Regions from separate parts of the Homo sapiens genome. Here region 2 is linked to region 1. Evidence: fine-mapped expression QTL. Tissue or cell type: whole blood. Region 1 holds a variant in brackets; the other region holds the start of a gene. All regions are shown on one strand. Distances are between the middles of the regions.

Evidence for each region. PIP is the estimated chance that this variant, and not a neighbour inherited with it, causes the effect.
Region 2: it holds the start of C9orf72, and the variant in region 1 is fine-mapped to the expression of C9orf72 in whole blood (INTERVAL, PIP above 0.99). The same link has a PIP of 0.9 or more in Th1 cells.

Annotation. Positions count from the first base shown.
Region 1 is chr9:27,543,401-27,546,164 of GRCh38, forward strand. No RefSeq gene overlaps it. Among named protein-coding and RNA genes, the nearest start is that of MOB3B, 15 kb to the left of the region's middle. The variant G/A (reference allele first, on the strand shown) is at 1,545.
Region 2 is chr9:27,571,979-27,574,478 of GRCh38, forward strand. It overlaps C9orf72 (C9orf72-SMCR8 complex subunit), which reads right to left and starts at 1,503. Exons shown (of 11, transcript NM_018325.5): 1 at 1,453-1,503. RefSeq lists enhancers at 897-986, 1,585-2,112 and a silencer at 1,497-1,576.

The sequences.
Region 1 (2,764 bases):
TCGTTAGATTTAATTTTAGAAGGATCATGCTGTTATCAATGTGAAGAATGGGCTGTAGTGGGGAAACGCCAAAGGCAGATTCTGTTCCACTCTTCATAAAAATCGTACCACAGCACTCTGATACCCTTTTTGCTCTCTAATCCATTTCTCTTTTCCCCCCAACACAGATAATTTAGAAATTATTTAGTCTTTTAAAAGCGCTGGTGTCCAAGTTTTTGAGGTTTTCCCAGATATTTGTTATTGGTTAATAATTTAATTCCATTGTGGTCAGAGAACATATTTTCTATGACTTGAATCCTTTTAAATTTATCAAGATTTGTTTCATGGCTCAAAATACGGTCTATCTTGGTACATGTTTCATGTACTCTTGGAAAGAATGTGTGATTTATTGTTGTTGGGGACTGCTGTGCTCTACAAATGTCATTTAAGTCAAATTGTTTGATAGTCTTGTTCTAATCTTCTATATCCTTACTGATTTTGTGTATTCTTGTTCTACTAAACATTGAAAGGATATTAAAATCTCCAGGCTGCGTGCAGTGGCTCATGCCTGTAATCCCAGCACTTTGGGAGGCCGAGGCAGGCAGATCACGAGGTCAGGAGATCGAGACCATCCTGGCTAACACGGTGAAACCCCGTCTCTACTAAAAATACAAAAAAATTAGCCAGGCGTGGTGGTGGCCGCCTGTAGTCCCAGCTACTGGGGAGGCTGAAGCAGGAGAATGGCGTGAACCTGGGAGGCGGAGCTTGCAGTGAGCTGAGATCCTGCCACTGCACTCCAGCCTGGGCGACAAAAAAAAAAAAAAAAAAAATCTCCAAACATAATTGTGGACTTGTCTACTTCTTACAGTTCTATCAGTTTTTGCTTCATCTATTTTGACACAGCTATGAGGTGAAAAAACATTTAGGACTGTTATATCCTTTTGCTGAACTGACTCTTTTATCATTATAAAATGATCATTTTTACCCCTGGTAATATTCTTTGCTCTGAAATCTATTTTGTTTCATATTGTCACTCCAGTTTTCTTCTAATTACCAATATGATGTATCTTTTCTCCATCCTTTTACTTTTAATCTGTTTGTTCGTCCTTTATTTTTAAGGTGTGTTTCCTGTTGGCAGCATATAGTTGGGTCTTGCTTTTTTATCTGATCTGAAAATCTGATTTTTTAAGGACATTTCTAAAATTGAAAAATAAAAGTTGTATATATTTATAGCATACAATATGATGTTTTGAAATAAGTATACATTGTGAAATGACTACAGTTAATTAATATATACATTACCTCACATATTTATTTGTAGAGAGAACACTTAAAAGATACTGTTAGCAATTTTCAAGTGTACAATATATGTTGTTGGTTATAGTCACATTGTACAATAGATCTCTTGATCTTTAGCTTATTCCTCCTATCTAACTGAATAAGTTGTACAATAGATCTCTTGAACTTATTCCTCCTGTCTAACTTTGACCAACATCTCCCCAGCCCACCGCCTCTCCCCAGCACCTGGTAACCATGTTTTTACTCTCTGCTTCTATGAGTTCCAA[G/A]TTTTTCAATTCTGTGTGTAAGTGAGATCATGTGGTATTAACAATCTCTGACTTTTAATTGGGGTGTTTTGAATGTTTATATTTAAATATCTTTAAAAGATAATTGACTGTATAAGTAAAATTAAAAAACAATAAAGTGTGGAGTTTATAATGTTTGTAGAAATAAAAACGTTAAGACCATAACAGCAAAAAGACAACAACAGTAAGTTTCTTAAGCTATATGTCAAGTAGTATATAAACTGGTTATAAACTGGTAAATTAGAAAGAGGTATAACCCTAAAACAACCACTAAAATAAATCAAAGAGTATAGTTAATAAGACAATAGAAAAGACATAGTAGAATAAAAAAATCCAAAAGTAAGGAGAAAACAAAAAGAACAAATAGAAAACAGCAAGATGACAGCTTTAACCTACCATGCCAATAATCATATTAAATGTTCTAAATGCCCCAATTACAAGCTGGAGATTGTCAGATTGGATGAAAAAGCATTTATGAAGCACTAGTCAGGTACTGAACTAAGGATCGTATAAGGTCTCATTAAATCCTCTGGTGAAGTACGTATTATCACTCCATTTCCAATATTTACAAAATGAACCTTGCATAGGTTAAGTAACTTCTCCAAGCAGCACAGCAGGGATTCACACTCGGGCTCTGAATAGTGCAAGTAGACCTGTAAAACCTGCTTCCTTACTCTCCTTTCAATTCAGCTACACTGAGTACCAGTTACATGGAGTTACTAAGTTAGGAGCTGTGCCCATGGCAATGACTGTAACTGTCTGGGATGAAATCCACCTTTACCAGCTGTGTGACCTTGGGCGGTGTATTACACATCTTTAAGCTTTAGTTTCCTCATTTGTAAAATGGAAGTAATAAAACTAGTCCCATAGTGTTACTGTGTGTTAAATGGAGGTGGTTGACTGTTTTTGTTACTTTAAGCTATACCCTGCAGATCATAGGAGAAATATCAATTTGTGCAATTCTACATCAAAATCAAAATAGTATTATATAAGAGTGATCTGTTTAAACTGTAGCATTATAGAAATATACTATAGAAGGAACTATTTTATATTTACTTTATAGTATTATATGAAGTTTTGGTTTCTTCTTTGAGAATCATAGTAATGTGATCAGTTAGTCTTCTTTTAAAGAAACCTCTCATCCCAACTATTCTATTTTCAAAAAAAAACTTTTTCTTGGAGTGAAAATGTCAAACCTATTC
Region 2 (2,500 bases), 28 kb after region 1:
TCTCAGACAATAGGTAGGCTAACCTAGTCCTCCTGGGAACTATCTAATTAACGTAGAATAGAACCCGAGGGCAGACTTGAAAAACAGAAGTCCTCCTTGGTTTACTTTGTTTCTCTGAAAGCAAATTGTGGAGTGCCAACATAGCCAAACAAAATATTTTATCAACTTCATAAGGTGCTTGTAATTTTTTCCTGGAGCAGGTAAATGCTGGCTTAGTGAACAATCTGGAATGTGGTAATTACTCTCGTTCTTGTTTCAGATGTACTATCAGCATGTAGCAGTTTCCAACTGATTCAGGGTTTTCCTAAAGTGGCAGGCCTTGGCAGAGGTGGTGACAACAATGCCCGTGTCAAATGACACCGTATTTCAAGTATTCTGACTCCAGGTTATTAATATCCCCTATATGATAGTCTTGTTTCTGTGATATTCACAGATTATGTTAAAAGTTTCCCAAAGTCTGAGAAAAATCATATCTTAACAGTATCTTTTTTTTTTTTGATCCTTTGTACAAAAGTAGAAGTAATGCCAGACAGATTACGTACCCTTGTTGTGAACAACTGGTGCATGGCAACTGTTTGAATAGAAATTTACCAACTGCCACAACCAGGCAACTACTCTCCCAGAGCCTAACAATCTCGATTGCATCTGAAAGGGCCACCCCTCCTGGGAAAGTGCAGGACCTCCCTCCTGTTTCTGAATACAAAGCCTGGTGGTGTTCAACGCGGCCAGATAGACCCAATGAGCACACGGACATGTAATCTGTGCACTTCTTTAGACAACTGATTACCATCAGTCAAGTGATGCCCAAGTCACAATAGTCACTTCCTTTAAGCAAGTCTGTGTCATCTCGGAGCTGTGAAGCAACCAGGTCATGTCCCACAGAATGGGGAGCACACCGACTTGCATTGCTGCCCTCATATGCAAGTCATCACCACTCTCTAGAAGCTTGGGCTGAAATTGTGCAGGCGTCTCCACACCCCCATCTCATCCCGCATGATCTCCTCGCCGGCAGGGACCGTCTCGGGTTCCTAGCGAACCCCGACTTGGTCCGCAGAAGCCGCGCGCCGCCCACCCTCCGGCCTTCCCCCAGGCGAGGCCTCTCAGTACCCGAGGCTCCCTTTTCTCGAGCCCGCAGCGGCAGCGCTCCCAGCGGGTCCCCGGGAAGGAGACAGCTCGGGTACTGAGGGCGGGAAAGCAAGGAAGAGGCCAGATCCCCATCCCTTGTCCCTGCGCCGCCGCCGCCGCCGCCGCCGCCGGGAAGCCCGGGGCCCGGATGCAGGCAATTCCACCAGTCGCTAGAGGCGAAAGCCCGACACCCAGCTTCGGTCAGAGAAATGAGAGGGAAAGTAAAAATGCGTCGAGCTCTGAGGAGAGCCCCCGCTTCTACCCGCGCCTCTTCCCGGCAGCCGAACCCCAAACAGCCACCCGCCAGGATGCCGCCTCCTCACTCACCCACTCGCCACCGCCTGCGCCTCCGCCGCCGCGGGCGCAGGCACCGCAACCGCAGCCCCGCCCCGGGCCCGCCCCCGGGCCCGCCCCGACCACGCCCCGGCCCCGGCCCCGGCCCCTAGCGCGCGACTCCTGAGTTCCAGAGCTTGCTACAGGCTGCGGTTGTTTCCCTCCTTGTTTTCTTCTGGTTAATCTTTATCAGGTCTTTTCTTGTTCACCCTCAGCGAGTACTGTGAGAGCAAGTAGTGGGGAGAGAGGGTGGGAAAAACAAAAACACACACCTCCTAAACCCACACCTGCTCTTGCTAGACCCCGCCCCCAAAAGAGAAGCAACCGGGCAGCAGGGACGGCTGACACACCAAGCGTCATCTTTTACGTGGGCGGAACTTGTCGCTGTTTGACGCACCTCTCTTTCCTAGCGGGACACCGTAGGTTACGTCTGTCTGTTTTCTATGTGCGATGACGTTTTCTCACGAGGCTAGCGAAATGGGGCGGGGCAACTTGTCCTGTTCTTTTATCTTAAGACCCGCTCTGGAGGAGCGTTGGCGCAATAGCGTGTGCGAACCTTAATAGGGGAGGCTGCTGGATCTGGAGAAAGTGAAGACGATTTCGTGGTTTTGAATGGTTTTGTTTGTGCTTGGTAGGCAGTGGGCGCTCAACACATAATTGGTGGATGAAATTTTGTTTTTACCGTAAGACACTGTTAAGTGCATTCAAAACTCCACTGCAAACCCTGGTAGGGGACAGCTCCGGCACTGCGGGCGGGAATCCCACGGTCCCCTGCAAAGTCATCGCAATTTTGCCTTTACATGTAAGAATTCTCTCAAGCATGATTTTCACACTGGGGAATGTCATTTTTGCTAGTTGCAATATGTGGATGAGTTGTTTTTTTTTAACTTTTGAAAAACGTACCATTCTGTTTGATGTGTAAAAAACACAAAGATTTTTGAAACCTTGCGTCTTTTGGTCTGCAGGTGTATAGATTCCACTTACTACAGATGAGTAGCATTTACACCACTCAGATGTGTAAAAAAACAAAGGTTTTTTAAAC